Regions from separate parts of the Homo sapiens genome. Here all the other regions are linked to region 1. Evidence: fine-mapped expression QTL. A gene starts in region 1. Each other region holds a variant in brackets. All regions are shown on one strand. Distances are between the middles of the regions.

Region 1 (7,844 bases):
TCCTAGAATTGGAATGTCCCCATTGTGCTCCCAGGGATAATATCACTTTATAAAATCTAATATCAGCACTTAAGATATTTTTCAGACGCTGCACTCAATGGATCAGCTGACACCACCCAAACCAGTAATCTAACCCAACCAGTTCTGCCATCACACCCAGGAAGAGAACACAGCAAGAAAACCTCACTTTGACACCCTATGATTCCATCTCCCACCTGAGTAATCAGCACTTCCTACTTCCCAAGCCCCTAGCTGCCAAATTATCTTTAAACGTTCTTATTTCTGAATGCTCGGGGAGACTGATTTAAGTAATAATAACACTACCCTCTCCAGAACAGCCGGATCTGCGTGAATTACTCTTACGCCATTGCAATTCCCCTGTCTTGATAAATTGGCTCTGTCTAAGCAGTGGGCAAGGTGAACCCACCTGGTGATTACAAATTCTTAATAGCAAACCAGGTAAGTTTGATTTCATTTAATAGATGATAGTTGCATGTTGGATATTTCAACAGAAGGAAGGCATGTTCATTCCCCTATCCATTCAGGTATATTTAATGAGCATAAATTCTTGAAACTTACTCTGCTGTTATTGGGGGTACCACTTTGGCAGCATGTCTGTACACTTTGAAGTTTGCAGTCAAGTGGAAAAATACATATGCAAATAAGTAAAATGAAAAATATTATAAGAATGTAAATAATTAGCAGAAGCTCAAGAAAAGCATAAGCAAAGTGTGTCTCAGGTACAGCTGTCCAGAGAAGGGAGGGCTTGGCACTGAGACCTGAAGGACTGGTAGGAATTTGTCCCCTGGAAAACTAGGAGCTGGTCTTTTGGCAGAGAGCAGTAAGGAAAAAAGCACAAAGGCTTGAGGGTGTCTCGTGTAACCAGAAAACTGGGAGAGCTGGGCTTTAGAAGGAATAGAAATGTGAGGCCAGGACTGAAGTGGCAGTGATCAGAGACAGGGCAAGTATTTGAAGATGTTTGCAGAAAGTTAGATTAATGGCAGAGTTTGAGAGTCATGCCAACCTGAGACCACTCCTCTCAACAGACTTTTGACCTAAAGCATATTTTGGAGGCATTCTCTAAGTATCCCCTTCAACTACAATATGGAAATAATAGCACAACTGTATTGATTGATGTTAAATATTAAATCAGAGAGAGTGCATGAATTAGCTATCATATGGTAAGTATTTTTTAAAGAAATGGTTACTATAGATTATTTTTTGTTATTATAATAATCACTGAATGAAAGCTGCAGTGATAATAAAAATGGCAGGAATCAATTAGAGGAAAAAACTTATCAGGACCACAGTTTTGGTTCCAGGCAAAGTGATGTAATGCTTAAACACATTACAGGATACAATTCCTCAAGAGTTTAAGGTAATAATAGCTGTCTACATTTGGTTGTTTATAATTATCAAACCACGACTTGTTTTTGACTAGTGGCTTTCAATTTACCCTATCTTTATCTAATGATCCCTTGATTCCAGAGCTTAAGTTAAATGTTGTGAAGTTAGACATAAACCCCGGAGAGAATTGTTCTATAGGGAGAATCAAAGGAGTAAAGAAACAACAACAAGGTAATATGAGTGAAGTAAATACAGTATTTTTTTATGAAGTTGAAATCATGCTTTACAAAGATTAATGGAAAAACTGGATACACATGTTTCAAAAGGTAGAAAAAATTGTCTGAAAGTTCAGATAGTAAAAAAGAGAAAAGGCAATAGGGAGCCACTGTATGTCCCTGAGCAAAGTTAATTACATTAATAGATCACTAGCAGATAAGCAGAGAGTGTTAACTAACTGGTCAACTTTCCTAATAGAACAAACCTATGTCAAGTCAGTTTCATAAGAATTATGTGACGATCTTCAAAGGTAATAAATGCCTGCAGGGTATTTAAGATTGAGCTATTCGCGGTGAGGAAGGGGGTAGTCATCTGACTTTTTTTATATGACTACAGATTGCTGCGATATGTTATAAGGTTTAGAATTCACTGATCTAGTCCAATTTCTTCCTTTTCCTGTGAGGAGAATGAAGCCAAAGAAGCGTTATGACCTGCTGGAATACTAGCTGCCTAAGTAACTCTATCCCTTAGGCTTTTTCAGCTTCTGTGTATAAGACAGGTGACCTAAAAGTTGTGTGCAGAATGGATTGGAGAGTTAAGTCCTGGAGGGAAGGATACCAGTTAAAAACAATAACAACGGCAAAACAAAACAACTGTGATATTAACCCATGAAATATTATATTAAAGTAGTCAGTATCAGGACCAACGAGAAAGAGGAAAAAATTGAATCACTTTAAACAGACCAAGAATGTAATTCACAATAAGAGATGTCGAAGAAGATAACAATTCAGAGGCTCTCAGATCTGATTCTGCGAAAAAGGTTTGTGATCTGGGCAATTAATTTGGAATCAAAAGAAAGATTTCAGAGTGCATTTCGAAACTTCTAGAATTGTCTCACACAAATAACTTCCTCTGGCTTTCTTTACCCTCCCTTTGATTACCAGAAGCTGAAAGAAAGGAATTAACTTCTTTCTGGCTCAAAGACATCTGGAAAACATATGACCTCCGTCAATATCTCTAACACCAGGTCCCATGATTCAAACTACACACAATCAGTAAGAAAAGGAATTCAACATGTGTGCTATCGGCTCACTTCCTTTCTTGTGTTTATTTCAGAGCAATAAATCAAGTGTTTTCTAAGTTCCTACTCCCAAACTCCTAGTCAGAAAAGGACTCACCTGCCATAGGGAACAGCCTCTGTCCTTTTTTACAGCGTTGGAAAGAGCCTCAGAGTCAAAAATGAAAGTAAACTATGTATTTCCTTATTGCAAAGGGCGGAAACGTGTAATTACAGATTGTGAAACTGCTGCTCAGAATTCCAGACTCATTATCAGGAAGTGCCTTGTCATCAGCAAATTGGCATCCAATTACTGGAATTTAGTTTCTGACTTGGGGGAAAAAAATGAAAATGACAAAATATTATCCTGTGGGTTGACACCTCAGCTTGTTTCTTTTCTTGTTTCCTGTGGCCACCCAAACTTCTTCTATCCATCTGTCTCTTCTCTTCCTGATCTCTCAGTTTTTCTTTCTCTGATTACAAAGAACGACAATGACTGAAGAAGTTTAATCTAACAACTCTTTTTCATTTCCTGATAAGAATTAACCCAATAGTTCATATTTCCAGCTTTTTGGGCAGGCACTGAGCTGCAGGAGTTTTTACATAGTCCAGCAGCTCCCGGAACTCTAGTGAGGCAGGAGTCCCGTCCACTCCCATGGAAAGGGGGCTGAAGCCAGGGAGCAAAATGGCCTTGCAGCAGGTCCATTCTCACAGAAGCCTGCAAGCTTAGATCCGCTGGATTAGAATCCCCACTAGCCAGCATAGCAGCCTGGAGTACGCCAGAGATGACCGAGTTCCCCAGGGGAGGGGCGACTGCCATTACTGCAGCTCTAGTCAGCGGTTTTTCCCTACCAGTGCTAGGGAGGCTGGGCAGATTGGACTGGGCAGCAGTCTTCACAGTGCAGCACAGCCGCTGTGGCAGATCATGGCCAGACTGCTTCTTTAGGTGGGACCGGGATCCATCCCTCCTCTCCCGGCAAGAAATGCTTGCAGGAATTTCAGCAACTCCACCTAGAGTTTACAGACAGAGCTCTCATTTCCCTGGTACAGAGCACCTGCGGAGAGGGGCAGCTGCGGTCTCAGGTTCAGCCAACTTAATCTTTCCTGCCTGCTGGCTCTGAAGAGTATCAGCGATCCAGACAAGGGGGATTCCCCCAGCCCAGTGCACCATCTCTGCTAAGGGATAGCCAGACTCTTTCCTTAAGTGAGTTCCTGATCCTGGGCCTCCTGACTGGGTTAGACCATTCAACAGGGGTTGCCAGACACCTCATACAGGAGAGTTCCAACAGGCGTCAGGTCAGTGATCCTCTGGGAAGAAGCTTCCGGAGGAAGGAGGAGGCAGCACTCTTTGCTGTTCTGCAGCCTCCATTGGTGATACATAGGTGAACAGTGTCTGGAGTAGATCCTCAGCACACTGCAGCAGACCTGCAGAGGAAGGGCCTGAATGTTGGAAGAAAAACAAAAAAAAATAAAACAACAATAACACAGCATCAACAAAAAAGACCCTACAAAAATCCCATCCAAAGGTCAACAGCTTTAAAGATTAAAGGTAGATAAATCCACAAAGATGACGAAAAACCAACGCAAAACCGCTGAAAATTCCAAAAGCTGGAATGCCTTTTCTCCTCAAATGATTTCAACACTTCTCCAGCAAGGGCACAAAACAGGGCTGAAGCTGAGATGGATGAACTGACAGAAGTAGGTATCAGAAAGTGTGTAATGACAAACTTTGCTGAGCTAAAGGATTATATTCTAACCCAAGGCAAAGAAGCTAAGAACCGTGATAAAAGATTACAGGAACTGTTAATTAGAATAACCAGTTTAGAGAGGAATACAAATGACATGATGGAGCTGAGAAACACAGCGTGAGAGCTTCATGATTCAAACACAAGTATCAATAGCCAAATCAACCAGGCAGAAGAAAGAGTATCAGAGCTTGAAGACTATCTTGCTAAAATAAGGCAGGTAGAAAAGATTACAGAAAAAAATAAAAAGCAATGAACAATACCTTCCAGAACTATGGGACTATGTAAAAAGACCAAACCTATGACTGATTGAAGTACCTGAAAGAGATGTGGAGAATGGAGCCAAGTCAAAAAACACACTTCAGGATATCATCCAGGAGAACATCCCCAACCTAGCAAGACAGGTCAACATTCAAATTCAGGAAATTCAGACAGTCCCAGTAAGATACTCCACAAGAAGATCAATCCCAAGACACATAATCGTCAGATTCTCCAAGGTTGAAATGAAAGGAAAAAATGTTAAGGGCAGCCAGAGAGAGAGGCCAGGTCACCTACAGAGGGAAGCCCATCAGACTAGCAGTGGAATTCTCAGCAGAAATCCTACAAGCCAGAAAAGACTGGAGACCAATATTCAACATTAATAAAGAAAATAATTTCCAACCCAGAATTTAATGTCTGGCCAAACTAAGCTTCATAAGTGAAGGAGAAATAAAATCCTTTTCAGACAAGCAAATGCTGAGGGATTTTGTCACCACCAGGCTTGCCTTGAAAGACATCCTGTAGGAAACAGTAGTCATGGAAAGGAAAATCTGTTAGCAGCCACTATAAAAACACACTAAAATACACAGGCCCATGACACTATGAAGCAACTACATTAACAAGTCTGCAAAATTAACCAGGCAACATCATGATGACAGAATCAAATTCACACATACCAATATTAACCTTAAAATAAATGGGCCAAATTCCCCAATTAAAAGACACACAATGGCAAGCTGGACAAAAAGACAGGACTCATCAGTGTGCTGTATTCAAGAGACACTGTTGGTGAGAATGTAAATTAGGTCAATGATTGTGGAAGAGTGTGTGGTGAGTCATTTAGAACAGAAATACCATTTGACCAAGAAATACCATTACTGGGTATACACCCAGAAGAATATAAATCATTCTATTATAAAGATACATTACATACATGCATATGTTCATTGCAGCACTATTCACAATAGCAAAGACATGAAATCAATCAAAATGCCCATCAATGGTAGGCTGGATAGAGAAAATGTGACACATATACACCATGGAATACAATGCAGCCATAAAAATGAATGAGATCATGTCCTTTGCAAGGACAAGAATGAAGCTGGAAGATGTTATCCGCAGCAGACTAATGCAGGAACAGAAAACCAAACACTGCATGTTCTCACTTATAAGTGGGAGCTGAACAATAAGAACACATGGACTCAGGGAAGGGAACAACACACATGGAGGCCAGATAAGAGGATGGGGGATGCGAGAGAGCATTAAGGAAAAGAGATAATGCATGCTTGGCTTAATAACTAGGTGATGGGTTGATCTGTGCAGCAAACCACCATGGCACACGTTTACCTATGTAACAAACTGCGCATCCTGCACATGTATTCCAGAACTTAAAAAAATATTAAAATAAAATGGCAGTATGAAGCTTAACATTGAAGGATTGCAAGAGGTCAGAAATTCGCCTTCACTTTTAATGAGTTTGGGATTAGAAAAGGCTCATGATTGCAACTGAATTTGTAGTTCTTCCAGTTCTTCAAAATCTTCACATCACTGAGTGACTGATTTAACCCCAAACTATTTCCCCTGCACAACACAAGTGCATAATTTTGCATTCAGTGCACTGTAGTGTTTCTTCAGCATCTCATACTCTGTCTGCTATTTCTTTTATGTTTGTTGACTGTTATACATTCTTAAGGAGGCTGTGAAATATTAGGGATATATGGTTGAATTATTTATTTTTTCAAAGCTGTGAAAATACAATAAAGAACACATTTTGGTCACTTTATTAAATGACATTAAATAGTTTAAGTTTAAACTACTAAACAGCACTTTTAATGGTGAAAACACAGGTAGTATATTGTCATACTTGAATGCTTTTCTTTAGAAACACAATTCCAGTCCTTATATATATTACAAGACAGCCTTAAAGGAAGAAGTGACATCTTTTCTACAGTACTTAAGATACTCAATACAGAAATGAAAAGCGGTCTAACAGAAACAAAGACAAAGAGTGGTTTTTATCTCAGAAGAAAAGTAATGGTAGATTTAAAGCAGGCAGAAAAGATAATAGGACCTAGGAACTCTATAGTTTGTGGTTCAACCTTTGGGCTCTTTCTTCTTAATGTAAATGTGCACAAAGATGATTTACTTCCATTTCACATAAACTCTGGTGTTGTGGGAAGTCAGGGACCCTGAACAGAGGGACCGGCTAAAGCCATGGCAGAAGAACATAAATTGTGAAGATTTCATGGACACTTATTAGTTCCCCAAATTAATACTTTTATAATTTCTTATGCCTGTCTTTACTGCAATCTCTGAACATAAATTGTGGAGATTTCATGGACACTTATCACTTCCCCAATCAATATTCTTGTGATTTCCTATGCCTGTCTTTACTTTAATCTCTTCATCCCATCATCTTTGTAAGCTGAGGGTGTATGTCGCCTTAGGACCCTGTGATAATTGCGTTAACTGCACAAATTGTTTAAACAATATGAAATCTGGGCACCTTGAAAAAAGAACAAGATAAGAGCGACGTTCAGGGAACAAGGGAGATAACCATTAGGTCTGGCTGCCTGAGAGCTGGGCGGAACAGAGCCGTATTTCTCTTCTTTCAAAAGCAAATAGGAGAAATATTGCTGAATTCTTTTTCTCAGCAAGGAACAGAATGCGTTCCTAGGGGGAGGTCTCTAAAATGGCTGCTCTAGGGATGTCTGTCTTTTACGGTTGTCATAAGGAATGAAATAAGCCCCGGTCTCCTATAGTGCTCCCAGGCTTATTAGGATGAGGAAATTCCCACCTAATAAATTTTGGTCAGACTGGTTGTCTGCTCTCAAACCCTGTCTCATGATAAGATGTTATCAATGACAATGCGTGCCCAAAGCTTCATTAGCAATTTTAATTTCACCCTGGTTCTGTGATCTCACCCTGCCTCCATTTGCCTTGTGATATTTTACTACCTTGTGAAGCACGTGATCTCTGTGACCCACACCCTATTCGTACACTCCCTCCCCTTTTGAAAATCACTAACAAAAACTTGCTGGTTTTGTGGCTCAGGGGGCATCATGGAACCTGCCGACATGTGATGTCTACCCCGGACACCCAGCTTTAAAATTTCTCTCTTTTGTACTCTTTCCCTTTATTTCTCAGACTGGCCGACACTTAGGGAAATAGATAAGTGCCCACAAAGAATTATCAGGGATGGGTTTCCCCCAATGCTCTGG
Region 2 (7,844 bases), 26 kb before region 1:
TGACACAGAAGTAATGAAGACATATAAATATTATACAAAGGAAGGTGTGAGGGAAAAATAATGGAAATAGCTCTGTATATAACCATGGACACTTTCTTTAATCCAATCTTTTAGTCAATGGTAATGGTAATAAAATATATTGAATAATAAATTAAAATTCTATATAGAACCATGTCTATCACAATTAAAGGAAGGTTTTTAACTAAGTCTTGTTCCAGTTAAATAAAGTAGGTAAGAGATGAGATGGAGACAGGTGTCTCTGCAAATATTTTGTGAAATTAAGGAAGTAGATGGTTATTTTTCTTCAGGAGAGCACCATGATATGATTGGAATTTACACAGTGGAATGTGGAGCTAGGTGTAATATTGGAGTCATAGATAACTAAATTGGAGTTTCTGATAGTCATCTGGAAAGGAGGAGTAAAAAGTAGTGAAAGAAAAGAAAGAGACAGAAACCAGCAAGACTGATGTTGAGAAAACAGTGGACCGACAAAGGGCTGCAAAGACAGAGGCAAAAGTCATGCAGAAGGCTGGGATCAAATGATTTTAAAGAACAATTCCATCTAATATTAAAGTCTACTAATTACACTGAAGCTAGAAATGTTTGGGTCTTTTGTGTGGTATCATCGTTTTTGATCATGGAAAAAGTTAATTCTACCTTAGGATATGGTCAGCACAATGTGGAACCAGTCTGTCTCCTGAGGGAGGGCATCTCATTATAGACAATATGTAATTTAACTATATGAGCAGAGCCAAGACCTTCAGGCCATAGGTGACCAAGAGAATGCAAGTCCCAGGAAACTGCCAAACATGGTGAATGAAAAGATTCAAATGACTTTTATTTAAACCTTGATAAGGAAGTTAACTGAGTTAAGTTACAAAGTAGAAATATCTTTAATGATAGCAGTTGTTTAACACCTTCTTTATTCTGGACTATGCTAAATATTTTGCCTATATTAACTCATTACATCCTTAGAACAATGATATTTATATTCACATCTATTAGTAAGGAACTCAAAGAAAGCCCAGAGAAGCTAAATAAATGAAATTAATTTACCAAGTACTAAGTGGCTGTGTCAGTCTATAAAAGCAAGGATCTTACACCAAAGCTTACATTTACAATTATTCAGATATATTCTGTTTTATGTACTTCATACTTCTAGGTAAAACCCACTTTAAGGTAGGACCCAAATGTGCCTTGCTTGTTTTTCTGCTTCTCTGCCCTCTGCTTCCACTATTCTATAAATACTTGATGTCTGGGCAAATTGGACTGCTGAATGATCCCAACATTGCAGACCTTTTCTATGTGGAGTCAAATTCTAATGTACTCCAGCATAGATCATTTTCCACTGAATTCTCTATTATTGCTCACAGTTTAAGGAAAATATTTTGTACTATAGAGGAATTCAATGATTACTAATTCAGTGTATATATATTATATATACACTCATAGGTTACTCTATTATATATACTCTCATAGATTTAATAATCTATGAGAATTACCCATAGCCCTCCCACCCTGGGTTTATCCTATGTAATTAATACCAAGGAAGATGGGATTCAAACAATGCTATTTTTTTAGAAGCACTGTTACCTAGGAAGGGAGAATACACTGCTTGAGAGTCTTCTGTGTTAAGGTAACTTCCAAATAGTGAACCTAAAGAAAGATGGACATTGAAAAAGCCTCACCTTCTCTGGAGAACTTTACCCCAATGTGTTGGATACTCTTTACTGAATTTTTTTTCCACATGCTTGACTGATTGATAATAAGTCCTGTTAAAGATGTAAGTCACCTGAAACCATGCACATCACTTGGGAAACAAGAGGGTCTTCACATGAATGACTAGACAGTTATTTAACAACTAAGGCAGAATAGATGAGTATCTGTGAGTGACACCTTTGGTCTCTGCTTTGTATGGTGAAAGTGGAATCAAGACATCATCAGATATAGAATTAATAATTTTCTTGACATGTGTATGTCAAGGTGGCTCCTGAGGCATCACAGGTGTGTGAAAGTAAAGTTGCCTAACTCAGTTTGATGAACCATATGGGGGAGAAAAAGACGTATATGCTTGGACCCCTAGTTTTGCTAAGATTTATCACAGTAGAAAAGTGGTTAACTGTCTTATATGAAAAATGAAATATAGCTCATTCACACTGCCAGATCTCTCTCTTGTTCTACATAATATTTGATGGTGGTGAGATTTCCGATTATTTCCTTGATTCATTTTGAAATAATAAGTAATATACTTTACTCTCATTTCTTCTTTCATCAGTTTTGCACAGTAGCTTAATTCTCTTCTGTGTAAGTTGATCAGAGTTTCCCGGGTGCAATTTACTCCATCTTTTCTCACCTCCAGTTATCCCTTTTGTCCCCAATGTCTTATTGTGGTAAAAATACATACCACAAAATTGACCATCTTAACATTTTTAAATGTAGTGTTTGATACTAAATCCATTCATAAAGTCATATAAGTGTCACCCCCATTTACCTTCAGAATTCCTCTTTGTCTGGCAAAGCTCAAATTCTATATCATTAACTAATAACTCCCCATTTCCTCCTCCCCACAGTCCCTGGCCATCACCATTCTACATTCTGTCTCTATGAATTTTATACCCTAGGTACCTCATGTAAGTGAAATCATGCAGTATGTGTTTTTCTATTGCTGCCTTATTTCACATAGCATAATGTCAAGGTTCATCCATATTGTAACAAATGTCAGAACTTCCTTCTCGTTAAAGGCTGAATAAAATTCCATTATGTGTATACACCACATTTTGCTTATCCATTTATCAGTTATCAGATAGTTCCACATTTTAGATATTGTGAACAATGCTGCTATAAATGTGGGTGTATAAATATATCTTTGAGACCCTGCTTTCAATTACTTTAGTTATGTACCCATAGGTGGAGTTTCTGGAGCATATGGTAAGTCTACTTCTAATTTTATGAGGCAATACCATACTGTTTTCCAAGGTGGCTGTACCATTTGAAATTCTCACCAATAGAGCACAGGATTCCAATTATTCTACATCCCTTCAAACCCTTGTTATTTTCTGTTTTTTGGGGCTTTTTTTGATGGGAGTCATTCAAATGGGTATGAGGCAGTATCTCACTATAGTTTTCGGCAACATCTTTCATCCTATTGTTGGGGATAAATCAGTCAGTTTTCTTCATCAGCCAAGTATAGATATTTCATGAGCCATAAAGCTCGAAAATCCAGTTAGCTTCCTCCACTTCATTTCCACTCACCCACCATTTTCATTGAGATTATATTCTCTATTAGAAAAAGACACAGTTCGTTTGTCTTCACTTTTATTGAAATACAAAATGTTAAATATGCAAGCTGTACTAATGAAGGTGCTCCTTGAAGTTGATTAAGGAGGGCTGGGCTGCTTGTGGCTTCCTGCAGGGGAGAGAAAAAACAGAAGGTCAAGATGGTTACCCCTTGCTGCCTTCATCCCATCCCTCATCATGATTCTTCTTGCATCCTCTTCCATGTGCTCTTGCCACTTCCCTTGACTTCCATCTGTGACATCTTAGTCTATTCACCAAAATGTGATCTTTGTAAAACCTAATTTAAAGCATATTACTTCTTTTTTCTAAAGCACTAGAAAGGCTTCCTGTCTCGCTCAGATAATAATTTTTAAAGGTTTACCATGTGATAACATAGAACCACGCGATCTGGCTTCTCACTGCTTCTCCTAATTTGTCTCTGCCATTTTCTCCACTCACGTTCTCTTTTGGTCACACTGTCTCATTGCAGTTCTTTAAACATGTTTAGTGCATTGCTATCCCAGGGCATTTGCACTGGCTGTATTCTGTGCTGGAACACTTTTCCTGCATAAGAACCACATTATTCACTCCCCAACTCTGTCCATTCTTTGTTCTGATTTCATTATTTCAAGAAAAGCTTTTGAGTGAAATATCTATAGGAGTACAGCATCCATCATTCTGTGTTTTCCTTTGTCTTCCTTTATTTTTCCTTTTATCTTTTTTTGCTCTCCGGCCTGTGATATATTTACCACTTTATGTCTTCAGAGTCTGTTTCTACTCACTAGAATATAAGCTTTCAGAGTGTAAGAAATCTATTTACGTTGTTAATTGGCATATTCCAAGCATCTAGAACAAAACCTGGTGCACAGTTAGTGTTGGCAAATATTAGTCAACAAACAATTCAATGTCCAAATGCAGCCCCACTGGATGGATTAGGCACTGAAAGCTGTTATGCTGAAATGATGCAATATTGTGACTGAAGTGTCAGAAACCAAGAGTAAAAATTATGTGGTAAATGTTGGAAGTATTGAGAACAACTTTATACATTTCACTATAAAATATAATTTTAAGTATGTATCTTAGAGGGAGATTGATAATAGTCTTATAGTCTAGTGTTAAATAAAGCTATTATGAGTGAAGAAAGTCATCATTTAGTCCAGACTCAATGTACCCATTCTATAATATTTTGGTCAAAATAATAACAAAAGTTACATGGGAGCTTGAAGGAACTTCTGGACTGTGATTGAAGATTCAAAAGCCAACCCTGAGTGATTGGTGATCTGCATTGTGAGAACAGTCTGAGAACCAGAGCCTGGATCAACACAAACTCTACAGTGTAGGATGTATTCTGTACCATCTGGTAATGGTATCTGGATGTCAGTAATGTGGTATTTGCTGTGACATCCTCACTCAGAGGATCAAAATGCTGCTTTCTCCAGAGTTAGCTCCTTTGTTTACTCTGTTTTGTTTAGGGTTTGATGCAATGTTTGGCTACTTAGTGTCTCTCTCTCTCTCTCTCTCTCTCTGTGTGTGTGTGTGTGTGTGTGTGTGTAAGAAAGGGGAATAAAAGAGAAAGACTATGAGAGATAAATGAATATAAATAGTAATGGAAGCATGAGCATGTTTCTATTTTAATAATTACTATCCTTGGTTTTTCATCATCACATTCTGCTG[C/A]GGTTTTCCTTACCTCCTTGATTGATTGATTGATTGCCTGATTAATTGTAGAGTTGGAGGAATCCAAATACATGTAAGTCGGAAAGAAGTAGCAGATAATCACCAGACTATATCAACAAAAACACCAATTTGACCATCCAAGTACTCAGCTGTCATTTGTCATTGAACTTAACCACCAATATCACTCTCTTATTTATTTCACATACCACCAACAACTCTCAATACTTAACCATTTTCAATTGCCAGGAAAGAGGTAGAAATATCTTGTCATGGACAGTCGTTCTATGGTGGGCATTTGAGCTTTGGCCCTTGGAGTTTCAAATGATTGCTGTACCTGAAAAAGAAAATAGGCTGTAGATGAGATACGACTCTTTTCAAGTCTCAGAAAGCATCTTTCACCATGTACCAGACAACACCTGGAATGAAGTGAGCTTGCAGGTTTCATAGAACCAAGCCCATGGGCATTCTAACTCCTCAACATTGTACCCTACCTCTTAGAATTGCCACTCCATGTCAGACTGTATGCTTTACATCAAAATAAACACCTCATGTCTAATCCAAGGTCTTTCAACATTCATTTCCTCTATTTTCCATTTCTGACCTACAGATCTGACAATAAGTTATCCCTTGAAAACTATTCATGAAAACCAGATAAGGAAGGACTCTGTACTTTCAACACTCACCAAGGCTGATTCCTCAATTGAAGGAGAATTTAATCCCAGTATCTTATCTTTCTTTTTTTTTTTTTTTTTTAAGATGGAGTCTTGCACTGTTGCCTAGGCTGGAGTGCAATGGTGCAACCTCGGCTCACTGCAACCTCCGCCTCCAGAGTTCAAGCAATTCTCCTGCCTCAGCCTCCCAAGTAGCTGAGGTTACAGGTGCCCACCACCACGCCTAGCTAATTGGTTTTTTGTATTTTTAGTAGAGACGTGGTTTCACTATGTTGTCCAGGCTGGTCTCAAACTCCTGACCTCATGATCCTCCTGCCTCTGCCTCCCAAAGTGCTGGGATTACAGGCGTGAGCCACCGTGCCCAGCCCCAGTATCTTATCTTTAAGACCCAAACACTGAACAACTTTCATATCTCCACCACCAAGCTGATCTTGTAGTTTTTTTGCATCAACTAATTGGTAAGTCTACTTATCCTAAATCCAGAATTTTTAGTTCCTTTTTCTATGAACATCCTTGAAAGTACAATGTCTAACTCCCACTTATCCAAGAAGATTTAAAAGATTTAACTTCCCAGATCTCTATTCACAGGAGCTCTGTCTCAATTTATGCTGCATTTCCTCCTCCTTCTCCTCCTCCTTCTTCTTATTTCACTACTTTTCTTTCTTTTTCTTTTTTTAAGACAGGGTCTTACTCTGTCATCCAGGCTAGAGGGTAGTGGTGAAATCTCAGCTCATTGCAACCTCCGCTTCCTGAGCTCAAGCGATTCTCCCATCTCAGCTCTCAGGTAGCTCGGATTACAGGTTCCAGTCAATATGCCCGGCTAATTTTTGTATTTTTTGTAGAGATGGGTTTTGCCATGTTGCCCAGGTTGGCCTCAAATTCCTGGGTTCAAGCCACTCCACCCTCCTTCGGACTCCCAGAGTGCTGGGATTACAGGAATGAGTGACTGTGCTGGTTCTGGATGGCTTTCTTCTATAAACGCCAGAGGTGTATCTTTCTTTTCCCGCAGGAGTTTTACTGTTCTCTACAATTTTTACTTTATTAATAATTATACTATTCTGTGTTAATACCAATCCCATTTTCTCTTTAAACAAGAGGGTGCATTTATCTGTGTATTTATGCATGTATTTATTCAATAATTATTAATTGAATATCTGCTACGTGCCAGGTTTGTTGAATTGCTGAGCAAATCCCTGCCATCACGAAGTTTGCATGTTAGTGAGTAAATACAAGTAAAAAACCAGACACATAAATAAACTATTAATATTTGCTGAGTGGGTAGATGTACGAGCTATGGAGAAAAATAACATAGGAAGTAGTGGGAATAAGGAATGTCCCAAGTTGGGCAAGAAGTAGCAAACCTTTCCTTCTGCACTTTTTTATTGAAAGAATGACTTCTTTTTTGTTCCCTCTCACATGTCTTTATGGATCCTATCACAATCTGTAAGCACATATTTGTTTGTTAACCCACATTTTCAGTATCCATATCTCCCACGAAAATGTGAGTCCTAGATAGGATTACGTCATGTAGGCCTCATTTACCCCTCTGTCACCAGGAGGAAATCCATGACCTAGCAGACCACCCAGATTTTATTCATTTAATAAATTAAGAAATAAAAATTATTTCAAAATATTTTTCCTTCTCTAAAACTTAAGAACTTACGCTCCATAACATAAAGCTTATGGTTGATATTATTTTATTTTACTTTGATCTTCTGCTGGGATATATTGGAATTGTCTTTTCCTTAGCCATATTTTAAACAACTGAATGACAGAAACTGGGTACCTCTCTACTTTCACTTCCCTGACAAAAATTGTCATTGTGAAGTAAAAAGTGAATCATGACAAATTCTTCCTGAAGAAATAAATGAGTAACTAGAAAAGAGACACTTACCTTCCGAAATACTTCCTCTAGGTGGCAGCACCAAGAATATTTCTGGAAGCATGTGATGAGTTGTGTGATGAAGATAGAGCCCATTGTGCTGTCTCTCCAGGACACGTTGTCTATAATGATACAGATGGGTATGCCTTGGGCTATGACTTTCACTATGTTTTTGTTCATATTTTTGTTTTGAGAATGTTTTTAAAAAGAAAAGCATAGCTTGGGAATTATCTTTACAGATTTGTAGGAAGCACTTACAACCTGACATTTACCTACTTTCCACAGAACGTAAACAGAAAACCTAGCAAAAGGTGATCAAAAGTTGCAGTTGGTAAGCATTG
Region 3 (7,844 bases), 250 kb after region 1:
GAACAAGGGATGGCTGAAATTAGCCTAAAATTTACCTCACAGACACCATTTTTGCTAGAATTTTTCAGCTAAGAATTACACTTCAATGTCAGATGTCAGCAAAAACGTATGATTCTCTACCTCAGAAAGATCTCTCAAGACTATGTTGTTGCTTTTGGGGGAAAGGACAAAGAATGTGGCCATATCATGGAATTCCCTATGCCATCTCTGTGGTATAAATGTTAAAAAAAAAAAAAAAAAAAAAGAATTTCCTGGCTCACAGGCTGATTCATGAAGATTGAGAAAGTGAGGAAGTGCATGACAAAAGAGAGAAGTGAGAAATGAGGGGCACAAGGACAGTGTGACTGCATGTATTGTCGCTATGCTTCTAACTCCTTTTCCTGAATCGAACTAGCGAAGCTGAATGTCTCTAGCAGAGAAGTTGTCTTTAGTTATCTACACAATGGTGCATACTGAAACGGACAATCCTGTGTTTAGAAATTAGTCAACAGCCATGCAAATTAATGATTATTTACCCTGGAGGAGTATGAATCAAATCATTTTTAATTAAATAAAACTAACGATGGCAAGGCAAAAAATCATTATTATTTTATGATAAATTATGCTGGGGTGTAATATATTGAGACTTTATCAATTTAGAAGTGCCATTGTTTTCAGATCCTTCTAAGAAAAGGTAATCTATTTGGTAAAAATGTTGATGATTAAATTAAAAATATCCTTTGAGTTTAGCAGAAGACTTTCACCCAGCTGTGTGGTGGCAAGGAATTTGTAAAGTATTTTTTTATACAATGGATCTCACCATAGCACCCTTTCATAGATGTTAATACTTTACACTAATATATTTTTAGTGATTGATTGGGTAATTTTGCTTGAAAAATGTACCTAATGGAAAAAAGCCTAGTAATTTTTCAGAAATTAGATGCTAAACACTGTAGTAGGTTGTCAAACATATATTATCTTATTTAGTGCTCATAAAAACAAATTAAATTTGAAGGCACTACTATTATATTCATTTATGGAAGAGAGAATGAAGGTAAGAAAGATTGCTCAAACTGGTCTTTTGTATGGCAGAGAGGATTTAGCAGTACATTGTCAACTCCCCCACTGGAGTCCCTGGCTTCCTGATCTGCTCACAGTTATTATAATTTCCATTTCAGTTTGAAATACCTGTGAATATATTGTTTATTAGTATGAATACTGCTTATTGGGTATGATAATTATAAAGTATAGGCTCATTTCAGAATTATTTCATAGTTCACTTCCATGAATAACCAAGATTTTGAAATAATAAAAAAAAAAAAAACCACTAACAACTAAAGCACATGTTGATGGGAGGATAGGGAGGGTTATGAGAGAGTTCCAGAAAAGAAATTCACCTAAAGTAAAAAATTTACTACAACAGCAGCAAAATATTTTAAGAGAGGGAGCCCTGAGGTCAAGGGCTATTGGAAATCCCTGCAAAAATTAGACAATGTAAGACAGTCCCCATTCCAGGTGAGAAGTTGCAGTTTACTAGTTATCAGCTCAAGTGTCTGAGATGCTCCCTGATATCAGGTCTTCCACAAACAGAAGAGCCTTGCTCATGGTGGACCACTGTGAAAATTGGAGAATAGAGGACCCAGTGTATCCAACTCATGTGCTCAAGCCATGTGGACTTGCCACAGCATCACCTTGGGAATACTTGCAATTTAGGAATCAAAAGAAACAATCTTAACCTCTTTTCTTATCTTTTAATTTTATTGTAGATTTTTTTTTTTGTAAAAGGGAGTTTTTTAAAATATATTTAAGCCATGTTTCTAAGCTTCTGGACTTTGTTTCCTGTTTTAAAAAATTATTTTGCCCCTTTAAAAACTATCAAAAATGTAAATTACTCTTGTTTTTGTCTAGTAGTTTTTGGCCTCTTGTTTTGCCAGTATTTTTTCATCTGGAGTCTATTTTTATCTTTGAACAAAAATAGAGATTCAGTATTATTTTTCCTCTGAAATGGCTAATTGTCACGAAATGATTTATTGAATAATCTGTCTTTTCCCCATAGAGGTTAAGTGCCAGTTTTATCATATGCTCAATCTCTATATGATTCTATTTCTGTATTATCTATTCTGTTTCATTGGGTATTAACCTATTACTGGTTGATAGCCTGCTGCTTTTATTATTGTAGCTTTATTATTTATTTAAATATCTGGGAGAGCTAGTCTCTTATATTTAGCCAAAAATATTCTGAAAAAGAAGACTTTTTACAAGATTGTGTTTTGCATTTGAACTCCACAACGACTTTCTCTGATTCTTAAAAATCCTGACATATTTTATTAAATGGTGCTGTCCATTATATTAAAGCTTAAGAACCTGTTCAGCTTGTTTCTGTTTATTTGTATCCTTCCTGTGGATAAATCATATCATATCTTTGTTATAAAGTTGTATTATGCTCTTTTAAAATATACATTAACCTCCCCCATTCTCAGTGTAATAAACACCATTTATTTTACTTAGTATTAAATATATGTGGCTGGCTGAGGAGATCAGTTATCTATCTTTCCCATTCCTGGGCAGTAAATAAGGAAGAAAAATGGGTTTTTGTTTGATACGTAGCAAGTTATTGGTTTGTAACATGCGAATGACGGCTGGTATAAAGATAAGCTTTTAAGTAAATGCATGTGTAACATATATGCATGTTTAAGGGGATTTGAAATCTATGGTAGCCACTCAAAGAGTCTGAGCCCATCTACCCTCGATACTTGGCTTAGTCAGGAGTAAAGAAATCATTGTGATTTTGACTTTATCAAGACTCAAAATTTAGCCTGGCATGATGGCACACAACCATAATACTAGGACTTGGGAGGTTGAGGTGGGAGGATCGCTTGAGCCCAGGAATTCAAGGTCACAGTGAGCTATGATCACACCACTGCCCTCCAGCCTGGACAAGAGAGTAAGAACCCATCTCTTAAGAAAAATAATATACTAACGAAATAAAAATGTATAAGACTCATAAAACCTAGGGGTAATATAAGAGTGAAAAATTAAAAATGAGTAACTCAGAGAGATTATTGTGCCTAAGTACTTGTACTGAAAAAGAGATAACGTACTATTTAAATATATGTATATATATATATACATATACATACATACACACATTACTATATTACAAATGTAACAATATTTTTTGTCATGTAAAACAATGCTGTGGACTCCATTTGGGGCACCTGTTCAGGTTACAACCTTTCCTCTTTTAATTCTCACCATACCCACAGGGAAAATGCAGTTGATAGAACCGTGGTGGAAATCTGACCTAAACTGGGCCAGTAAGAATACCTTCCTAGGACTTCTAAACTTAAGAGTAGAAAGAAAGAAATTTTCTCTGAGTTATTTTATACGTAAAACATGAGCTCATAAGCTCAGGAGCCTCTTTCTACCTGCCACATGAAACACAGAAACAGGTCATGATGGTAGTCTCATAAAGATAAATTGAGTGGAACAGAAGGAGCCAGGAAGCAATGAGGAGAATCCAGGTGGCTTCATAAGTCTCTGAAGTGTAGCTGCCTGATCTTGAGCTCTATGAGACATATCTGAGTTTTTTTTCACTAAGCCCTTCTCTCTCCTTTTATTTGGCTTAAATTAGCTATGATTTGGGATTCAGAGAGTCTTTGAGACACCTAGGAAGTAGTTCAATTAATAGTCCTTCAGATTTGGATGCAAATCTCAAGCCTGTGATTTGGACAAATTGCCTAACTTCTGTAATATTTTTTGTGGGTCTTCAACAGTAAAACTAGGATTAAACCCTACCTCAAAACTGATAAAAAGGACTACAGTGTGTCTTGTGTGTTGAGGTAGGCTCCTACAAACCTTCAGGAGCCAGCTACTAACTTATCAAACATTTCACCAGCTTGTTGTTAATCCTGTTAATAGCTTGAAATTGGCTGTGGTGGGAGTGTTTACAACCACATAAATTGGCTAAAATACATTTTTTTTTTTGTTTTTAAAGGCTGTTCACCAGCACAGAACTAATTATAATAATAGATGTAAAGGGCTTACCCACTACCTGATCCATCATAAACACTCAATAAAGTGATATTATTATTAAAAAATTATTGTGTAGATTCTGAATCAATGAACCTATGCAATCTAATTGTATTATGAGAATATACAACAAGTGTCATTAGCAAATAGAGAAACTATGTTCATCATAGTTTATTCAAACTGCAAAGAAGGGTGTTAGTATGTCTTCCAAGCAGCAGACAACAAGAAGGAATTAAAAATGCATGGACCATATTAGGAAAATTGTCTGGATGACAAAATTGTCAGGAATTCAGGAAGACTGGGTGAGCTATCAGACCAGGGTGCAAAAAGAACTGCATCTCCATGACTGAAGGAGAAAGAGAGAAAGCCTGGGCAGGTGTTTTCAAAATCTTCCCAGCCTGCCAGATCTTCCAAGAAAGGTTTGACAAAGCCAATGGTTGGCACTCAAAGGGCCCCTGCTTTCCCCAGAGTGAGTCTGCCTTAGTATTCTTGCAGCAGTAGGTACTGGCCAGAAGCAGCCTAGGCACGGTCTTCAATTCAAGGCAGGACAAATTGAATTTTGGAAT[G/A]CAGCAGTTGTGGGCTATTGCTGCTGGCTGATACCTCCTGCTCTGGGACATCAGCCAGGCACATTCTCACAGCTGCTGCAAGGAGTAGCAATTTTCAGGTATGTTAGCTTTGCAGATCCTGCAGTTGTTCTCCACTTTAGCGTGCTTAAAAAATGACAGATTATTGGGTCCCTGTCCATTAATTGGTACTTGAAACATGGACCTCAGGTATTTCTGATACCATAAAATAGTGAAAACAAAATAAAAAACATCAAACCCCACATTTTCAATTTTTCTTAAATATACAAGGTTATTGTAATCACCTTCTCTCCTTAGGGGATCATAACATGTATGCCTGTTAAATAATAAGACTGATGGCTAAGAGCCATACAGAAAGACACAAACAAAAACAAAAACCTGGCTCATTATTTGACGTCACTGCATTCTTGGGGCTGAGTGTTCTCCATCTGTGTCTAAACACGTTTATCCCAACTTTATTTTTACAGCCTATATCAAGATAGTATTCCCACTGGCTTAGCTCCTGTCATGCCCCCCTCCCCCCAACAGCTTCTTTCTTTTCAGTGATCTTGTTTTGTTACTTCTTTCATTATTTTGATGTTGACACCATTTATTTTGCCCACATCTCTCTTGCCCAAAGAATTGTTCCTTTGTTTTTTTATTTTAAATTCCATCAACCTATTCAAATTTATAAAAACAAACAAACATCTTGCAATTATCTCCTTAGTGGTCTTTGATTTCAAGATTTTTATTTTCTCTAGTTCATCACACAGAAGGGTGTCCTTAATGTGTAAACTGGATCACCTAAGTTTCTTACTCAATAACTTTCCCTATTTAAAAAAATCAACTCTATGCTGCCATTCTAGACTTCTTATATTCTACTTGATATACATCATCCCACATTTCCTAAAGCATAGCCTATAAGAAATTGTTTATATAATAAGGGTCATTAATGGCTTGTGGTCAAGGAAATTTGTAAAATGATGAGTTGAAGGAAAGTTAACATCTGAATATATTTAAGGCTCCAGATATTTTAATATGCTAATGAGCAAGCAAATATCTAGGAGGGGTATGCTATACCACGTTTCTAGACTAGTGGTCTAAAGAAAATGCTTTTTAAAAAGGCAATATGACTTTATCTTCTGCCATTTCCCACAAGAACCAGATCCTTCAAATGCACCTCCTTGGCACACTCTGACACACTATCATGTCTGAATTTTTGCTAGGCTGTTCCATCATTCTGATTTGTTTTTTCTTTAATATAATATTGATTAGGAACCAGGAGATGAAGTCTGTGAAATGTCATAGGCTCAGTCAGGCTCTCTCCCCTCTTTATATTGCTGGGTTCGGTAACTTTGAGAAGCATTTTGCAAATTGTCAGCCAACAATAACATGAACTTGATTCTTTATTGACCATTTTATTGATAGTCTATGAGCGTTGCCTCTTGATTCTATTACATTTGGCACTTTTTGAATTGGTTCATTGGTTAAATCTTGTCTCCCTTACAAGACTATGCATATTTCAAAAACAGCTTTGTAATTTATTAATGTTCTTTACAGTACTCAGCAGAATGTAATGTGTTATGTATAATGTGGGGTTTGTTGAATTGAAAAGTAGCCAGGAGGGAGAGTCTGGGAAGATTCAGGAGGCAGGAATGGAGCAAAAAAGCTCAGTAGTTAAGAATGAGGGAAATGGATGCAAAGTCTAACTAAGCAGAAAAAGAGAACCTAAACAGAATGACATGTCCAAAGTTTGCAATGGATCACATCAATGTCTTTTTAATGTTGTTACTTGTCCAACTTTACTTTGCATTGCATTGCATTGTGAAATCTTTCACTGTTACAGATATTGTAATTGGCTACTAATTGTAGCCCTTGGAAAATAGGCTTCTGTCTATAATAGCCCAAAATACTTCAAGCCAGCAGAGCCTCCTAAAGTTCCAAAGCCTATCACACTTGAATTTCTCTCAGACTGAGAGACTCTGACTGTACATCCACACAAATACACAGTTTGTGTTTTTAATATATCATAAAAAAGGTACAATCTCTCTCCATTTATAGGAGTAGTGAACTATTGGGCCTGGGGATGTGTAGAGAGTAAAGGGAGACTACTAAGATGAAACAAAGGAGTTTTAAACTGAGAATCTGTATGTGAAAGAAAAAGGCTAACACATACTTGACCAAATGTATTTTGTTTTTGAAGATGGAAACTAGAAATTATTGCAGCTTCAATGTGTTATCCCCATAATAGCTCAGCTGATAGCACCAGCGTCTATGTGATAAGAGCTTCAAAGAAAGGTGAAGCAAATGTCACTTAGAATGACTCGTAAGTGAGGAGTTCTGCAAAACTGACAGTTCTAAAAGCAGTGAAGGGTCAATTTTGTGTACTTTAGCTCACTTGATTCAAGAGGCTAACTCTCCAGTACAGAGGCTGATAGATAACCTTCAAAAGTTTCCTTTGAGAAAAAAACAAACACTGTTTAATTTGTGGACCAGAGTAGACTCTATCTGGAATAAACTCACATGAACTAAGTAAAATGCTGAAGATAGGATGATATTAGGAATATAGTATTTGACAGAAAACTCGGAATTACCCAGTTTCTGTCTTCTTCTAATCACTCATTCCAAAGATACATTTAAATCCATCCATGGGGCACAATCTGTGGTGGAAGAGAGAGAGAATGAATGTGAGTAAGGGCCTGGAGGCCAGCTACAGCTCCTGGGGGCTGTGGGCCATCCTGTCAACCTATTAGCTCTGTTCACAAAGAAAGTGTTTAATGAGCTGGGCTAAACCATTGGCAGAACTCCTTTTGCCTAAGTTGTACATGGTTTGAGCCATCAAAAGTGGGTTGAAAGGCCATTCATTCCTGAGGCCTCACCTTAATTTTGACCTCCACCACTCTCAGCATGTGTTTTTCAGTACAGCTCTATGTATGTTCCTCCTGGTAAGGGAGAGTCTACATTCAGGAAGTATGACCACATCAGTACCACTGACCTCAATCAATAGATGGGAGAACTCCAGACAGTGCTGTAAAGCCCTTTGCTCCAGAGCCTTCCTTGTGCATGAAACAAGGAGGGGAGCAGGGAAAAAGGGCATCACTGATCTCCTTTCCTATGGAGGGCAGCAGTAGATAAACATGAAGTGTGATTTTATTGAAACAGTTCTTAAAATAATCAAGTTATTTTCTTATACAATTACTGTAAACAATTGAAGCAAATTATAACCACCAATTTAAGCTATTTATTTAAAGACTTACCATATTTTTCTAT
Region 4 (7,844 bases), 220 kb after region 1:
TATTTATTTATTTATTTCGAGACAGAGTCTTGCTCTGTCGCCCTGGCTAGAGTGCAGTGGCAGCAATCTCAGCTCACTGCAACCCAGGTCCAAGAGATTCTCCTGCCTCAGCCTCCCGAGTAGCTGGGATTTCAGGCATGTACCACCACACCTGAATCACTTTTATACTTTTATTAGAGATAGGGTTTTGCCATGTTGACCGGGCTGGTCTCAAACACTGGGCCTCAAGTGATAGGCTGACCTAAACCTCCCAAAGTGCTGGGATTACAGGCATGAGCCACCCTGCCCAGCTGTCACAGCGAAATTCTACCAGATTACAAAGAAAAGCTGGTATCAATTCTACTGAAATTATTGCAAAAAATCAAGGAAGACAAATTTTTTCCTAATTTATTCTGTGAAGCCAGCCAGCATCACACTGATAACAAAAGCTGGCAAAGACACAGTGAAAAAGGAAAATTACAGGCCAATATCTGTAATAAATATAGGTGTAAAAACCCTCAATAAAATCCTAACAAGCTGAATCCAATAGCACATCAAAAAGTTAATTCACCATGATCCAGTCGGCTTCATTTCTGGGACGTAAGTTGGTTCAAAATATACAAATCAATAAATATAATCCACCACATCAACAGAATTAAAAGCAAAAATGATATGACTATCTCAATAGACATGGGAAGCTTTCGATGAAATCCAACATCCCTTCATGATAAAAACACTCAAGAAATTCAGCATGAAAGGATCATATCTCAAATAAGAGTCATCTATGACAAACCCACAGCCAATATAATACCAAACTTCATTGATGGAATCATTCTCAACCCAAACCTCAGAATCATGCAATACACACAGGTAACAAACGTGCGCATGTACCCCTGAATTTAAAGTTGAAAAAAAATCTGAAAGGTTTAAAAAAATAAGGTATAAAAATACACCCACTGAAATATAAGACAGTATCAAGTTTACAGAAATCTACAAGTGTGTTTTTATCCACTAGGGTTAAGCTGGAAGAATTTGGGGAGATGAGAGTATTTGGGGAGATAATGGCTAGTAATGATGGCTCTTGCATCCTACTCTAAGCAGTGTGGTCTTTAAAGTAAAAGTAGCAGTTAGCACTGAAGCATTTATGCTAGAACAACTAAATTCCCAAATTTAAATCTTAGATAGTTCATTCTGAAAGCATTAATTGAGGTGGTTTCAAAGAGAAAGAGATAATATCAGATAAACCTAAAAGGTTGAGCTGAAGTAATAGGCTCAAGTGAGAAGTAAAATCTGAAGTAAATCAAAAATTAAGTTGTAAATAATCTAGTGGACATGATAAATAAGAGAGAAAGGGGAAACTCTTGAGTAATTTCCTTTTCTGAAATACTTGAATTACTGAATACAGTCATCTACTAAATTGCGACACCCACGGGAAAAAAACATGCATGCTGTAGGTGATGATGAGTTTGTTATTAGCTTTACTTTGAGATTATTTTAGGACATCCAAATTAAGCTGTTTGCAGGATTGAAATATCTGCACATTAGAGGGGCATATGTGTCTGAAGATCAGGAATTCAGTCAGGGATAGAGATTCAGATTGTGGGTCACCATGATGCAATTGGTAGTGAAAATAATCAGAGAAATAGAATAACTCATTATGTAGGATAAGATTAGGATCGAATAAAATCAGAATCTCAGTGGACACCAAGACTGGCAGGAAGGCAAAAAAACACTAGAGTACAAGGAGATTGAGAACAATTTGAGACTAAGAAAGGGTCAGAGAATGGGAGGTTCTTAAAGACAGAGAAGTCAGGGAGTGACATTTTTTAAGTGATTTGTGGTCATCAAGATCAATGTCACTGGAAGGATTACATTGTTTCTGGCACAACAGTGGTTATTGGTGACTTCACAAGAGCACTTTTAATAGAATACAACAAATATAAAATATATTACTGGAAACTAAGTGAAGATTTTCAATTTTATAAATGGTGCATAGGCAACAGGCATTTCTGGTCTCTCTGAAAACCCAACTAAAGTGACATTAAGTTATTTTTGAATATATATAAGCAAAAAATCAAAGAAAACAGATTTTAGTACATAAAATGTTATTTTTGGAATATAGAAAGCATACAGATGAATAGTAACTGAGTGTATACATGAAAAATCCAGAACATGACAGCTTGGGTAATGACAATTTAAAAAAATCATGATTTATGGTACAGAACCATGGAAAGTGTCAAAAATTGGAGTCGCAAATTATCTCTGAAAGCCAGAGTGTGAAGTGGGACAGAAAACAAAAGATTTGTTGAAAGTGTCTTTAGGAGCAGGTAGCTGCCCTGATGTTCTCCCCAAGTCCAACAAACTAGTCAATTGCCCTTTCTTGAGCTCTGCAGGAAAAAAAAAAAAAAAAAAGGATTATTCTCTGAAGATGTTGAATTACAGAGACTGTGAATTGGAGACATCTTGACCAGCTAAGGTCAAAGATGAGGCACCCCCCTGGACACATGGAACCAGGCGATCGAGGGTGTACTGAATGGAGGTCCTCTTGCCCCCATGGCTGCCTGCCTCCCACTACTCTGGCCTCTATGCTTTTCTGTTGTTGGCAGATGACTGGAGGATTTCTTTCTGAGGAAACTGCCCTGTAGAATAGAGAACTACAAATTCCCCGCAACGTGAAGTTTACCTACACAACAATCCTGCCCATGTACCCCTAAACCTAAAATAAAAGGTAAAAAAAAAACAACAAAAACCTTGTACCCTACCTAAATACAAATTCATGATTAAACAAGCCATTACCACATACATAAATCTTCCTATTAGAATGTTAGGACCTACTTATTTTGATTGGACAGCCAAGGATCACCAGGTATTTGAGAAGCTCCTTAAAAACAAAACACAAAAAAATGCACATGAAAATCCAAAGATAGAAAAAAGAACAAATAAAAACATCAGAGATCATATGGGGAATAAAAAACACTCATATAAAATTATAATTCTCATCTTCAAATCTAAAAATACTATATTACATTTATGATATGAGAGTATTCAGAGAATACAAATTTTTAGAAATGTGAAATCTTTTGACAAAAATAAAAACAAATGATTGAAATGTTGAAAAGCAATGAATAGAAAATTTTGCAGGTGAAAAAAATAATTTTAAAATAATAGAATTCTAAAAGGTTAACAACAACAACAACAACAAAAGCTCAGTCTAACAGGCCAACTAATGAGTTCCACTGAGAGAGACAATGATGGGGAGGATATTATGAAAGCATCACTTAAGAAATTTTTCCAGAATAGAAGGATAAGATTTTCCACAAAAAAAAAGGGTCCACTGAGTATCCACAATGTGACTCAGATTCATCAATACTCATGACTACTCTTCATAACTATACAATTTCAGGACATTTGGGAAAAGTCCTAAGAGCATCTGGAAAGGAAAAAAATGGGTTACATACAAAGGGCTTATACAAAGGAATAAAAATGACTTCTTACTTCTAACAAGCAACACTGGAAACTAAAAAAGAACTGAACAATGGATTCAGTTTCTGAGGGAAAGTCTTTTCTCTCCTGGAAGTCTATGAATCTCACTGCAAACTAAATGCAAGGATAAAAATATTTTCAAACATGCAAGGGCTTAAATTAACTTTCTCTGTGCACCTTTTTCTGTGTTACAGAGTATCTATAGAACATTGTTGAAGTATATATTTCATAAAAAACGAAGGAATAGATTTAGGAAGGACCCAGGAATCAGGGCATTTAACACAAAAGGGTGTAAAGAGGAGACTAGAGAAAAATCCAGTTTAGACTGGAACAAGAGGAGTAAAGATTTCAGGAGAGATATTTCAAACACACACATGTACACACACACACTGGTTTCTTTGTAGTCAAATACATAAAGTAATTTATCAGTTCTTCTTGTGTGCATATGTGTGAGTGTATAAGGTAGTGCAGGGATGTGAAAAAGAGCCATATCCTCATTCTTCAAGCTAAGAAACCAAAAGATATTATCTAAAAATACTTAAAACCACTAAGTAGCAGTGAAAACTCAGTATTTAAAATATGCAGTTTAAATGTATAGTCTATGGGAAATTACATTGGAATATTCAAAATTCAATTAATGACATGAGACATCTAAAGTTTTTTACACATTAAAAAAGGTAAAGCATATATATTAAATATCTCAAAGTACAACAGAAATTTTCAAAAAAATATACTGGAATGAAAAGAAAATGTCTACGTAATAATTTTCACCAAACCATAATATCAACAAATGCTGAAAATAATAATTCTTATAAATGATATATTATTTCCCATATTTCAGGAAGCTTAATCCACTTTATTTCCTGGAAACTCCTTTCTCTTTCACTCTTCACTGTCAGTTCTCTTCAGAGGCAGATATTGCTAAACGTACACCAATATGTGTTCTCTAATTTTTCTGTATCAATAGAAGTTCTGATTTTTATGTAGGCATATGGCTTTCCAGGATATATGGTAAATTTACCATCATTGTTTGTCACTACGTTTGGATCAATAGACTTTAAAGAGAAGGGCCTTGTGACAGTTTCTCTTATGTGTCCATTTGATGGGGTCATGAAGTGAGCAGATATTCGATTAAACATGATTCTGGGCGTGTCTGTGAGGATATTTCTGGATGGCTGAGATTAACATCTGAATCTGTAGACTGAGTAAAGTAGATTGCTCCTGCTCCTGTCCTCCACCAATGTGAGCAAAGCTCATCCCATCTGTTAA[A/G]TAAAGGTCTGGATAGAGCAAAATTCTAGGCAACAAAGAATTCACTCTCTCTGTCTCATGGTCTTTGAACTGGGTTATCAGTACTCTCTTGCCTTAAGATTCAGTCTGACACATATACCTTTGGCTGTCCTGGTTCTCAGGTATTTTGAGCTGCAGTTCTTCGTACTTCCCAGCCTTCATAATAGTGTGAGCCAATGCCTTATACTCTGTGTGTGTGTGTGTGTGTGTGTGTGTATATATATAATATAAAATATAAATTTATCTTTTTTAATATTTTAAAATATACATATTATATATTATATACATAAAATACAGATGTAATATATACCATATATTAAAATATAATATTTTAATACTTTAAAATGTATAAATTTAATATTTTAAAATGTATTGAATATTTTATATTTAAATTTATATGTTATATATAGATATACAAAATTTAAAAATATATAAAATTTGTTCCTCATAGAAGTACAGGGACAAATCTTTCAAAAGAAGGGTTTGACCTTCTTGGCCAGACGCAGTGGCTCACACCTGTAATCCCAGCACTGTGAGAGGCTGAGGCGGGTGGATCACGAGGTCAAGAGATCGAGACCATCCTGGCCAACACAGTGAAACCCCATCTCCACTAAAAATTAAAAAAAAAAATTAGCTGGGCATGGTGGTGCGTGCCTATAGCCCCAGCTACTAGGGAGGCTGAGGCAGAGAATCACTTAAACCCGGGAAGCGGAGGTGGCGGTGAGCTGAGATTGTTCCGCTGCACTCCAGCCTGGGTGACAGAGCGAGACTCTATCTCAAAAAAAAAAAAAAAAAGAAAAAAAAAGAAGCAGTTGACCTTCTTTATACTGAATGAGTGTGAAGGATGGAGCTCAAGCAGAATCTTGATCTATTTTGGGGAAATCAAAGGCCAAGATAAGTTAAAAGGAACCAGTAAAGGCACCTCAAGTGGCTTATCATTCAGACCACCTATCTTTGAAATTCTTTTTATGAGGGAGATAAATAAATTTTTATTTTACTTAAGTTAATATTATTTTTTATTTTTGTTTTGCCCCTCATAATTTAACCTCATTCTAAATGATGAATTTCCTAAAATAGTCTCATAAAAATGCATGTTTTTGATACTTGGTTTAATTGAACAAGATCACATGCTTTCAGATTCTCCAATGCTGTGCTTTTCTTAACATGTTCTTTTCAATCTCCTGGAAGCAGTCATTTTATAATGGAAAAGATAATGTTAATAAAGCTGCATGATTCAGTGAGAACACAGACTGTTTCTTTCTGTTAATGAACCATCTTTATACTAACAATGATGTAAATATAAAGATGTAAGCATAATAGTGATGTCCACACAGGGTTACCCAGAAGGTAAAAAAGGAATCAAATGCTGAGTTGGTAAAGCTACTTACCCAAAAAGCCACAGCCATAACAACAGTATAAGGCAAGTGTCTGTGTCCAGCTGCATCACAGTCCTGGACATCACCACCAGTAGAGCGCAATCCATGGTTCCCAGTGTGAGAACAAAATAAATTTGAATCATACCACTGGCATAAGAGATGTTCTTCTGTGGGCCCCAGAGATTGTACTGTAATTAAAAGATGGAACTGATGGTGTAGCAGAAATCCAGAAAAGAGAATAAGTACCGAGAGTGTGGGGATGGGAGTCCAGGTATGACAGAATGATGCTGAACAGCTTGCCTATCAGTGTCATGAAGCAGAATATCAAGAGAACTACAAAAATAACTATTTCCAGAGGAGGTCAATTAGAAAGACCCAGTAGAATAAAGTAATTTTCAAGACTTATGTTGATATTTCCCATTATTATTCATTTTCTGTCACCTGAGCAAAAAAAATCATATACATTCAAAAGAAAAAAAAAGTAAGAAAATGCTCCAAAAATCACAGAGAATCATGGAAAATAAACAAGTCATTTTGAAGGGTCTACTATTGTTCAATTCTAGGATAATTTGAACATTGAGAAAAACTGTGATAGTAATGAATTTAACAAACAAAGAATCATAAAAGCACATACCAATATAAAAAATAAAAGAATAAAGAAATAAATGCTGAAGACAAAGCTATTTCTTAAGTAGAATCCTAAGTAATCCTCACTAGAATGATGGAGTTAGAAAAACAGAAATGGATGTTAAAACTATTGGATGAAAATCTGATAAGGAAAAGAATATTTACACAGTTTAAAATATCTCTCCACAAACTACTTAGTTCCATAATGAAAAATAGTAAACTTTACAGTAGAAAACAGATCATTTGATATCATGATCGATATTAACCTCACCAATGTTGTAATAGACCAATATCATATGCTTGCTGATATGATGCTCTGAACAGGACATAATATCACTTCAATGTTATTCCTGCTGAAAGTGCACAGCCTAATTCTAATAACAAGGAAACATGGAACAGACTCAAACTGAAAAAAGTTTAACAAATAAGCTCGCCTGTACACTTCAAATACATCAAGGCCAACGAAGACAAAAAAGCTGAGGAACTAGACTAGATTAAAGGAGATCAATGAAACATTATATCTGCACTAGTCTGTTTTCACGTTGCTGATAAAGGCATGCCCAGGATCTGGTAATTTATAAAGCAAAAAAGGTTTAATGGACTCACAGTGCCACATGGCTAGGGCGGCCTCACAATCATGGTGGAAAGCAAAAGGCATGTCTTACATGGCGTCAGACAAGACAGAATGAGAGCTAAGTGAAAGGAGAAACCCCTTATAAAATCATCAAATCTCGTGAGACTTATTCATTACCACAAGAACAGTATGGGAGAAACCACCTCATGATTCAATTATCTCCCAGTGGGTCCCTTCCACAACCCATGAGAATTATGGGCTTTACAATTCAAGATGAGATTTGGGTGGGGAAACAGCCAACCCATATCAATATCTAAATGTGTGATCCTGAATTCAGGAAAAAAAAAACAGATATTAACAACATTATTAAGAAAATTGGAAAAATCAGAATGTAGACTATGGATTTAGATAATAATATTGTATCCATATAAAATTTGCTGATTTTGGTAACTATACAGTGGTCCGTAAAATAACGTTCTTGTTTTTAGGAAATAAACACTGGTATATTCAGGAAGAAA

Direction of the effects. Alleles are on the strand shown, and positions count from the first base shown. SD is a standard deviation of normalised expression in the study named. Not every link is listed here.
As copies of C replace A in region 2, the expression in skeletal muscle of the gene that starts at base 2,797 in region 1 goes up (small effect, 0.26 SD a copy in GTEx).

The links. PIP is the estimated chance that this variant, and not a neighbour inherited with it, causes the effect.
Region 2: its variant is the best candidate, but not a certain one, in a credible set for the expression of CASP4 in skeletal muscle (GTEx, PIP 0.73).
Region 3: its variant is the best candidate, but not a certain one, in a credible set for the expression of CASP4 in whole blood (TOPMed, PIP 0.52).
Region 4: its variant is the best candidate, but not a certain one, in a credible set for the expression of CASP4 in whole blood (INTERVAL, PIP 0.75).

Annotation. Positions count from the first base shown.
Region 1 is chr11:104,965,778-104,973,621 of GRCh38, forward strand. It overlaps CASP4 (caspase 4), which reads right to left and starts at 2,797. Exons shown (of 9, transcript NM_001225.4): 1 at 2,742-2,797. The coding sequence starts at 2,748. LOC124902813 (a long non-coding RNA gene) reads left to right here. Exons shown (of 2, transcript XR_007062986.1): 1 at 1-2,383; 2 at 2,508-2,803. RefSeq lists an enhancer at 2,597-3,796.
Region 2 is chr11:104,939,568-104,947,411 of GRCh38, forward strand. CASP4 (caspase 4) reads right to left here. Exons shown (of 9, transcript NM_001225.4): 7 at 7,516-7,625; 8 at 5,181-5,284; 9 at 3,299-3,406. The coding sequence ends at 5,186. Among named protein-coding and RNA genes, the nearest start is that of CASP4, 25 kb to the right of the region's middle. The variant C/A (reference allele first, on the strand shown) is at 4,951.
Region 3 is chr11:105,220,053-105,227,896 of GRCh38, forward strand. All of the region lies in intron 4 of LOC105369468 (a long non-coding RNA gene), which reads right to left. Among named protein-coding and RNA genes, the nearest start is that of CARD18, 84 kb to the left of the region's middle. The variant G/A (reference allele first, on the strand shown) is at 4,578.
Region 4 is chr11:105,188,391-105,196,234 of GRCh38, forward strand. The region is part of intron 4 of LOC105369468 (a long non-coding RNA gene); the gene reads right to left. It also overlaps the pseudogene OR2AL1P. Among named protein-coding and RNA genes, the nearest start is that of CARD18, 53 kb to the left of the region's middle. The variant A/G (reference allele first, on the strand shown) is at 4,732.